Homo sapiens: one gene and its partners. The protein of the gene in region 2 binds, or shares a complex with, the protein of the main gene of each other region. Each region holds a gene or a part of one and is shown on either strand. Other genes may lie near its edges. The genes, in order: POLR3K, POLR3F and POLR3D.

Region 1 (2,506 bases), on a different chromosome or scaffold from region 2:
CAGATTTGGACTGCCTCTGAGATCAGACAATGGACCAACATTTGTGGCTGCAAGAGTTCAGGACTTAACTAGACTATTAAAAATAAAGTGGAAATTGCGTACATCCTACAGGCCACAGAGCTCAAGTACAGTGCACGAACCAGACACTCAAACAGCTGCTGAAAAAATTTTGTCAAGAAACTCATCTAAAATAAGATCGGGTCTCGCCCATGGTCCTCCTCCAAGTCAGGTACACCCCCACCAAACAAACTGGGTATTCGTCCCGTGAAATATTGTTCAGAAGGCTGCCCCCAATCATTAATCAAATTAGAGGGGATTTAAAAGAGTTAGGAGAGCTAACCCTTAGAAGACAGATGCACTCCTAAAGGAGTGACAATGCAAGAGATGCATGGCTAAGTATTAAAAAAAAAAAAAATGCCTATAAGTCTAACAGACCCAGTACACCCTTTCAAACCTAGGGTCTGTGTTTAGGTTAAAAAATAAAATCCAACCACTCTAGGACCCATATAGGATAGGCCCCATATTGTGATCAGGAACTGATCAACATGTTCAAACAATAAGAAAATAGTCATATTAAATGTAAAGATTGGTGGGACACAGTGGCTCACGCCTGTAATCCCAGCACTTTAGGAGGCCGAGGCAGACAGATTATCTGAGGTCAGGAGTTGGAGACCAGCCCGACCAACATGGAGAAACCCCATCTCTACTAAAAATGCAAAATTACCCAGGTGTGGTGGTGCATGCCTGTAGTCCCAGCTGCTTGGGAGGCTGAGACAGGAGAATCCCTTGAACCCGGAAGGCAGAGGTTGCAGTGAGCTGAATTCGTACCACTGCACTCCAGCCTGGGCGACAGAACAAGACTCTGTCTTAAATAAATAAATAAATAAATAAAATAAATAAATAAATAAATAGTATCTTATACATTTAAAGCAACCCGAGGAAGCAAATCAGGGGAGGTTCAAAAAAATGAATAAGGGAGTAAGAATAGGAATAAAGAAAGAAATTGAAATCCCGGTGATTAACATTTTCGTAGCCTGTTCAAATGTAAGTATGTAGTCTATTCTGGGATCACTGTGATTTGGGGTTTGCTTTCTACCTCTTAAGCTATTTAAAACACTGAGAAGGCAATATTCCAACTTTCATTTAAATGAAATATTCAGAATTTTGATTAAAATAAATAATAAATTACACAAGTTTACAAGTAACAGTTAAATATTTAGGGACATGTACTAAGTTTTACAAACAGTACAAATATTTAAGAGTGTTGATTGGGAGTAAGGGAATGTCAACTGCCAATAAAGTGGAAGATGAAAGAATAGGACTTTACACAGAGCATATTTAGTTATGGGTCTCTGTCTCCTCCCCACACAGAAAAACTCCCAGACATTCATGACTTCATCCACCCTGCCTGGCAGATAGGCCATATTTCCTGACCCCCTGGCTCTTCACCTCAAAAGGTTTATCTTTCCACCACACTAGCAAAGACCCTCAGGACACACAACTCATACTGCCAGCTAAGCATCTACCCCGAGGGACAAGGCAAGCACACACTAGGGCAGCTGGGCCATCCTGGCCCTAATCCCTCCAGCGGTGTCCACACTGAGCATTGCAGCACTTGTAGAAGGTGGTCATCGGCTCATCTGCAGAGCGGGTCTGAAGCTGCATGAAGTAAGCACGAGGATGTTCGCATTTGGGACACGACTCTGGCAATGAGAAAAAAGAAGTGACCACATTTAAAAAAAGATGCTACTCATGGCTGTCAAAAGTAGGTATTACTTAATATGTGGGAGGCCAAGGCGGGCGGATCACCTGAGGTCAGGAGTTCGAGACCATCCTGGCCAACATGGTGAAACCCCATCTCTACTAAAAATACAAAATTAGCCAGGCGTGGTGGCGGGCGCCTTTAATCCCAGCTACTTGGGAGGCTGAGGCAGGAGAATCGCTTGAACCCAGGAGGCAGAGATTGCAGTGAGCCAAGATCGTGCCACTGCACTCAAAAAAAAAAAAAAAAAAAAAAAGTAGGTATTACTATAATATCTTTTTTTTTTTTTTTTGAGATGGAATCTCGCAGTCACCCAGGCTGGAGTGCAGTGGGGCGATCTCAGCTCACTGCAACCTCTGCCTCCCGGGTTCATGTGATTCTCCTTGCCTCAGCCTCCCAAGTAGCTGGGATTACAGTTGCCCGCCACCACACCCGGCTAATTTTTTTGTATTTTTAGTAGAGACAGGTTTTCACTATGTTGGCCAGGCTGGTCTCGAACTCCTGACCTCATGATCCGCCCACCTCAACCTCCCAAAGTGCTGGGATTACAGGCATGAGCCACCGTGCCCAGACTACTTAATATCTTTAAAGATGGTAAAGAACCTCCCTGCTCATTTGATCCCCCTTGACAAGGGTAGATCTACAAACAGTGATGTCATTCCCACCACGCTGTAACACTAAGGGAATCTGGGAGACCTGTGACTCACACACTCTCCCCCTCCCCTCCCTGAGTCCCATGGTTCT
Region 2 (3,655 bases):
ATATGACCATGGACAAGTTACTTAAACTTTGTGAGCTTCAGTTTCTTTATCTTATCTATAAATTGTGGATGCTGACACCTCTCGTTTTTGCAAGGACCAAAAGGAAAGCTGGTGTGGTGTAGCAGTGTCTTAACAGATGTCCCTCCGCAGCTATAGTTTCTCTTCTACCCGCTTGAAGAACTGTATCTAAATTGCAATCCTAAGTTACAATAATTTGGGATCTATTTGAGTCATTGATATTAGCTGGAAAAATTGAGATGTAATCTGAAATTACATAACTAATTCTTATATTTATTAAAATTAACATTTTTAAAAATAGTCCTATGAGAAAGCCATTCTGCATATTTTTTTAATCTTCCTATCTCATATGCCATTACATTGGGAAGAAAATAAAGCAAAATATTTACATACATTCCCTTTCCATATATAACACTTATTTCCTTCTTTGAAAAAGAAATCATTGCTTCTCACACAGGGCTTTTAGCAGCCATAAGAACCCTAGGCTTCCTTTTCCATCTCACAAATACAATGTTGTATAAATAATGGATTACATGCATGCAGACACTCATCTAAAGAGTGTTTTTGTCCCACTTGAGGATGGCAGTTGACCTTGACCCAAATTTAAGTTTGTATTTCACATTTACAATCTAAAATGAAAGTATCAGAAAACAGAGATAAGGGTACAGATGATAAAATTCCATTGCATCCATGATTTTTCCTTCCATTATAAAAACGTCGTTTTCATAATTTTTTTTTTCTTTTTTTTGAGATGGAGTCTTGCTCTGTTGCCCAGGCTGGAGTGCAATGGTGTGATCTCGGCTCAGTGCAACCTCCGCCTCCCGGGTTCAAACGAGTCTCATGCCTCAGCCTCCCGAGTAGCTAGGACTACAGGTGCATGCCATCAGGCCCGGCTAATTATTTTTGTATTTTTAGTAGGGACAGAGTTTCACCATGTTGGCCAGGCTGGTCTCAAACTCCTGAGCTCAGGTGACCCACCTGCCTCGGCCTCCCTAAGTGCTGGGATTACAGGCATGAGCCACCATGCCCAGCCCTTTCCATAAGTTTTTTAAAAGTTTGCCACACTGGGATTCCAAGAAATTTCTAGTTAGAAATTATAAATCATTATAATAAGTCTTACAAAGCATTATACTTATTTATTGTTTAGCATACTTTTGCTACTTTAGCCAGCATTCTTTACTGTTAGCTTTATACTGCTAGCTTTGGAATGAGACACAAGTTAGAGGAATAACATTAAAAATCCATGAAAACCAGAGTTCAACTTATTTTACTTTACTTTCTTATAGGAATATGGAGCAGAGATATCCGCTATAAAAGTAATTTGCCATTAACAGAAATCAACAAAATTCTGAAGAATCTGGAAAGTAAAAAGCTTATCAAAGCTGTTAAGTCTGTAGCAGTGAGTAGTCCTTTCCTCAGATACCCACTTACATATGTTGCTTCAAGTTTTTATTCTTGAAGTTATGTCATGATTTAGAACAGCTGGTCAAAAAAGACTTAAAAATTTAGCTCATGTTGGATTGGTTTGGAGATGCTGCTTAGACTTGTCCCTACACAGTTAGCTCTTGGTGTCTCACTCACCCACTCAAAAATCTAAAACTACTTTACTGTCTTCAGTGAAGAATCTTTGGAACTGTGAACATTTTTCCTAGATTTTGTGGTGTGTAAGATAATTTACTTTATCCCGACATATTAGCTTTCTCATTCAACAAAGAGTGTTTGCTGTGTGCCAGACACTGTTTTGAGTGCTTGGGATACATTAATGAACAAGTCGTAGAAAGATCCCTGCCTTGGTGGAGCTTCTCTTCTAGTACACGTGTGTTTTTCCTGCTCCTCATCCTGCCCCACCCCTGCTCCAGAGCTGGCTCCCTCGGGGACATCTGCCCCTGACCTCACTGATTTAGACATCAGAGGAACTGAGATTCCCCTAGAATAAAGTTTGCTTCAATACACATTTCATAAGAATTACAGCTATAATTCAAATTTTATAATTTCAGAGCTGTTAGGTCTGTGGCAGTGAGTAGACCTTTCCTCAAATATCCGCTTACATATGTTGCTTCAAGTTTTTATTTTTGAATAAAACAAGAATTATAAGAATTATAACATCACTTATAAGAATTTGATGCTTATTAGTGATTTTATTTATCAGAATAGCATTTCCCTTCCACATTGTTTAATGGATAATTTCAAATATATACAAAGGTAGAAAAAATCATATAATAAAACCCTATCATGTAGCCTCATTTTGTCAGTCCTCCTTCTACATCTTTATGTTTAATAACAGCTCTGCTGAAATATAATTCATCATTCATACTACAGAATTCATTCAACCTTTTAAAGTGTAAAATCTTTGGATTTACAGTCACTGGTTTTTACTATAAGCTAAGAGTTGTGCAACCATCACCGCTGTTCTAATTTTAGAACATTTTCATCACCCCCAAATGTGGCCACTAGTATTTGTTTCCCAGCCTCTCTTTCCATAGGCCCTAAAAACGAATAATTTATTTTCTGCCTTTATTATAGATTTGCCTATTCTGGACAGTTCCTATAAATGGAATAATAGAATATGTAGTCTTTTATGTATGACTACTTTGACTTAGCATGATGTTTTCAAGATTTATCCATATTGTGCTTTATTCCTTCTTATTGCCAATTAAAATTCCATTGTATAGATGTATATCACCTTTTGTTCATTCATCCGTTGGTGAACTTCTGTGTCCTTTTAAGGGTTAAAATAATCTTAGATCTCAGTGTAAAGTGCAAAACTATAAAACTTTTTGAAGAAAACATAGAAAATCTACATGACCTTGGCTTTGTTAATGAATTCTTGGACTATAACTCCAATAGTAGTCTATGAAAGAAAATGTTAATAAGTTGGAGTTTATCAAAATTTTTTGAAAACCTCTGCTTTGCAAGACACATTAAGAGAATGAAAAGACAAGTTACATACTAAAAGATATTTGCAAATCACATATTTGATAAAGGACTTGTCTCCAAAATATACAAAGAACTCCTAAAATTCAGCAATAAGAAAACAACACTTTGGGAGGCCAAGGCGGGTGGATCACCTGAGGTCAGGAGTTCAAGTCTAGCCTCACCAACATGGTGAAACCCTGTCTCTACTAAAAATACAAAATTATCCAGGCGTGGTGGCACATGTCTGTAATCCCAGCTACTTGGGAGGCTGAGGCAGGAGAATTGCTTGAACCCAGGAGGCAGAGGTTGCAGTGAGCAAGATTGCACCATTGTACTCCAGCCTGGGCAACAAAAGCGAAACTCCATCTCAAAAAAAGAAAAAAAAAAAAAAACACACAATGAAAACAAATAATCCAACTAAAAATGAGCAAAAGATCTGAACCTCACCAAAGAAGACATACAGATGGCAGATAAGCATATGAAAAGATGCTCTACATTATTTTTCATTAGAGAACTGCAAATTAAAATAAAATTTAGTATAGTGAGATACCACTACACACCTATTAGAATAGCTAAAATCTAAAAATTGGTAATACCATATGCTGACAAGATACAGACCAAGATGAACACTCATACATTGCTAAGAATGCAAAATTTTCAGTCCTTTTGTTAAAAAACTGGGCAGTTTTTACAAAACTAAACAGAGTCTTACCACATTGTC
Region 3 (4,222 bases), on a different chromosome or scaffold from region 2:
TCCACTGTTCTCGCCCTTCTCTGGGGCAGTCTGAACTGAAATTCACTGATTCCTTCCTTATACCTTTTTTCTTCATCATTTCAGCTGGGCCCTGCTCAAAGATGGAGTGAGACTGGATCACTTCTGGACGGCCTCGCCCTCGTCCATGCCCCTCTCGTTGTCGGTCTCTGTCCCTTTCACGCTTCTCCTTCTTGACAGTTACTTCTTCCTTGGGCCTGGAAAAAAGAATGGATTAAGGGAAACCACTCACTCACTGTGTCTCCAAAATCTGGCCTTACTCTCCCATACCACTTCACTCCAAAACAGTGGAGAGTTTGAGCCAATATTTACACCATGAGAAGCAGAATCCAATCCTAATTCTAGCACTTTTCTCACTTCCTTGATGAGGCAGGATTTTTTCAGTTTGCTTTACTTTACCTTCTTGTCCAAAAATATAGATTTTTGTTTGCATTGGGACTGAAAGCAGGAAGGCAGAAATGCAAAGGAACTTCAGGGAAAGTGTGATACATCTTTGTTTAAACTATTGGCTCTCAACTCGGGCAACAAAGAGAATCACTCCATTCTACTGCCAGCAAGTTAAATCACAATTTCTAAAGATGGAACCCTAGACACCAGTAATTATTTATTTATTTATTTATTTTTTAAAGCTTGCAGAATCACCTAGGAGCCAGGGTTGAAAATCACTAGTGAAAAGAACTAAAGATATAAATTTAAATTTTGGAGCTACAAACCTAGTTATTTCCCCCAAAGCCCCAAATTCAGAGCAAGTAAATAAGGGGCAAGTATTCAGAAGGCCTAGCTACTTACTCTTCCTTGATCTTCCGACTGATGATATTTGGGGTGAAGGTTTTCTGAAAGCAAAATACAGGAGTCACTGATGTGTTAGGTTCTGACCCCAAAGTACAGAGGAAAATAAAAATTCCCAAAGGGCATCTTCTACAGACCAAGGCCACCACGGCTCTCGTTGGCACATTCCACAGTGCTGTCAGTTTTATAGATACACATGTGCCTGAAAAGGAGGAATGTCATAGTGTGGTAGCAGTGGAGTTACACATAGAAGGGGGCACCAAAACCCACTTTTAACCAGCAGCCTTAGGTTCTGCCTCTGAAAGAAGATCCTCTGGGACTTCTAAAAGCAAAGGAATTTCTCTGGTCTCACCTCTTCTCTTCAAACTGCTATAGAGACCAGTCAGTATCATGGGGGAACAGCTCTAGCAGCAAGGCCTAAGTAGGGAAGGCCATAGATCTGCCAACACTTTCAATCAGGTGACTATGGACTGTCACCACAATTTTCCAAGGCAAAGTTAGGTTTTTAAAAACTGCTTTATGGCTGGGCGTTGTGGCTCATGCCTGTAATCCCAGCACTTTGGGAGGCCAAGGTGGGTGGATCACGAGGTCAGGAGTTCAAGATCAGCCTGGCCAAGATGGTGAAACCCGTCTCTACTAAAAACTACAAAAAGTAGCTGGGCGCGGTGGCGGGCCCCTGTAATCCCAGCTACTCGGGAGGCTGAGGCAGGAGAATCGCTTGAACCCGGGAGGCGGAGGTTGCAGTGAGCTGAGATGGTGCCTCTGCACTCCAGCCTGGGCGACAGAAAGAGATTCCCTTAAAAACAAAACAAAAAACCAAAAAACCGCTTTATTCGGCCAGGAGCGGTGGCTCACACCTGTAATCCCAGCACCTTGGGAGGTCGAGGCAGGCGGGCGGATCACGAGGTCAGGGGTTCAAGAACAGCCTGGCCAACATGGCAAAACCCTGTGTCTACTAAAAATACAAAAATCAGCTGGGCATGGTGGCGGGCGCCTGTAATCCCAGCTACTCAGGAGGATGAGGCAGGAGAATCGCTCAAACCTGGGAGGCAGAGGTTGCAGTGAGCTGAGATCGTGCCATTGCACTCCAGCCTGGGGGACAACGGCGAGACTTCCTCTCAAAAAAAACCAAAACCAAAACCAAAACCTGCTTTGTTCTTCTGTCATCCTGACCCCACCCCTTTCTGGGCTACTCTTGACATCCACAGTCATATACACATGGGAGAGGCCACAGAGCCTCGAATGCCATACCTAGGATTCATCATACTCTAGATAAAAAGTTTGCACACAGAGATGGTGAATTCTGAACCCTCTAAGACTGCGAAGTTTATGCCTGTCTGGCTTTCATGGGTTTCTTAAAGATGTCCAAACACACAATAAAAGTAAATAAACACTGTTCAAATTGCTTTTGAACGACTTTAACTTATTAGGATTCTCTGCCCTTCAACCACCTCTGGGAGTCATTTCAACATCTTGTACTCAGTACCTAGATTTGAAGGTAGGACAGACTCCCTAGAATTTAAAGAGGGGTAGGCTTGAGAGGCCCAACGACAGTCCTGACACACAGTAGGTCCTACACAAACATTAGTTGAATCCTGGGGCTTGGAATTCAAGGTAGTTGAGTTTCTTTAGAAACGCGCCGTTGGGTACCTTCTTGACTCCCCCGAGGGTGAGGTCCCTGGAACGGATGGAGGGAAGGCGGCCGGGGGTGAGGGGAGGCGCCGGCCGCCGCCCGATGAGCCCCCGGGCCCCAGTCAGGAGAGGTCGGGGCCCTCCCGGCGTGCTGGGCTCGCCGGCGGCGTTTCCTTCCGACATGTTGCCTGGGAGAGAAGGGGCGACGAGATCACCAGAGGGGACTGACACGCGGACCCTGGCGGAACCCCACCCCCTTGCTTTCCGGTCCCCCAGTCGGTGCGTCCCTCCAGTGGCCTCTCAGCTCCTCCCCTCCCACGTGGCGAGACTCCCGGGACCACCCAGGTGAGAGCCTTTGGCTCGCGACACGCCCTCTCCAGGAACCCCGCCCAGGAACCAGACAGGGACGCACCCGGGCCGCGGCTCCACACCGCGCGTCACAACCTCACCTGCAACGCGACCAGCCGCCAGCCTTCGGTCTCCGCGCCGGGCGGAAGTCTGCGTGGCAGGGCCTGGGCGCCGCCATCTTGGCGCGGGGCGGAAGTGACGTTAGGGGGGCGGGACTGGGCCACAGTATTTATCAGGCGGCGCTTCGCTCCCCTCCGCCTTCTCTTCCCGGTTCTTCCCGGAGTCGGGAAAAGCTGGGTTGAGAGGGCGAAAAAGGATGAGGTGACTGGTCTGGGCTACGCTATGCTGCGGCGCTCGGGGGTCTTGGCCTCCGGGCGGTGGCGTGGAGGCGCCAAGATCAGGGTCCCGGGTTTTGTCGGCCACCACGCCGCAATGTGAGGATTCGCCTCGGCGGAGCCCCTGGGAGCTTCGGGGTAGCTGCTCGGGATGGGGCGAGGGGCGCGGCGCGGCGCAGAGAGTGAGACCTGGACTTAAGAGTCGGGGAGTCCTGGGCCACACCGAGCCCTGTCTGCGGGTTCTCCATGGTGACCTTGGAGTGGTCATTACCTCCGGGCAGCGACCTCGCCCACTTTCGGGGACCCCTTCCCTGTGCTCCTGGTGGAGTCCTGGGGTGAGGCTGTGGGGGCAGCTTGGAACAGCCGCAGTGGACCAACCGGTGCCCAGTCATACCCGCTTCTGATCACGAAGGCGGTGGCCCTCGTGTGCGCTCTTGGTCAAAGCCTGGAGGGAATTGGAATACCAAGTTTGCTCTACTGCTGGAGGAATTTAAAGAACTTTTGTTGACTCCAGCGTTTGTGATTTAACATAAAAGGTGTCATTTAATGTTATCCCCCATCCCCCAGACCGTATAAAAACCATGTAACAATATTATGGGGAGTTTGAGGAAAGGAAATCATTTCTACCAGAATGCCACGTAGAGTACTACTATTAAAAATTTTGTAATGTATCTAGTAGTCTTCACAGAGTTGTCGTATCACAATTTCGTGTCCTTTTTCTTTTCTTTTCTTTCTTTTTTTTTTTTTTGAGACGAGGTTTCTCTCTGTTGCCCAGACGGGAGTGCAGTGGTGCGATCAACACACCGCAACCTCTGCCTCCCAGGCTCAAGCCATGCTTCCACCTCAGCCTCCTGAGTAGCTGGGACTACAAGTGCATGCCACCACGCCCGGCTAATTTTTTCTTTTTCTTTTTTTTTTTTTTTTTTTTTTTGTATTTTTCGTAGAGACGGGGTTTCACTATGTTGCCCAGGCTGGTCTTGAACTCCTGAGGTCAAGTGATCCCACCCGCTTCGGCCTCCCAATGTGCTGGGATTACAGGCATCAGCCACCACGCCTGGCCTGTATCCTCCTTTTTCAAATAACATTTCTCTGTTGCGACA

Evidence for each region.
Region 1: POLR3F (region 2) and POLR3K share a complex: the UniProt entries of both Homo sapiens proteins name them as parts of the RNA polymerase III complex.
Region 3: POLR3F (region 2) and POLR3D share a complex: the UniProt entries of both Homo sapiens proteins name them as parts of the RNA polymerase III complex.

What each region holds. Positions count from the first base shown.
Region 1 is NC_000016.10:45,855-48,360, forward strand, and holds the end of POLR3K (DNA-directed RNA polymerase III subunit RPC10), read right to left. Parts: intron 1,704-2,506; coding exon 1,576-1,703; 3' UTR 553-1,575; downstream 1-552. UniProt on the Homo sapiens protein: Core component of RNA polymerase III (Pol III) which synthesizes small non-coding RNAs using the four ribonucleoside triphosphates as substrates. Can mediate Pol I proofreading of the nascent RNA transcript.
Region 2 is NC_000020.11:18,473,771-18,477,425, forward strand, and holds part of POLR3F (DNA-directed RNA polymerase III subunit RPC6), read left to right. Parts: intron 1-1,304; coding exon 1,305-1,417; intron 1,418-3,655. UniProt on the Homo sapiens protein: DNA-dependent RNA polymerase catalyzes the transcription of DNA into RNA using the four ribonucleoside triphosphates as substrates.
Region 3 is NC_000008.11:22,243,850-22,248,071, reverse strand, and holds the start of POLR3D (DNA-directed RNA polymerase III subunit RPC4), read right to left. Parts: upstream 2,940-4,222; 5' UTR 2,889-2,939; intron 2,628-2,888; 5' UTR 2,623-2,627; coding exon 2,458-2,622; intron 852-2,457; coding exon 808-851; intron 216-807; coding exon 64-215; intron 1-63. UniProt on the Homo sapiens protein: DNA-dependent RNA polymerase catalyzes the transcription of DNA into RNA using the four ribonucleoside triphosphates as substrates.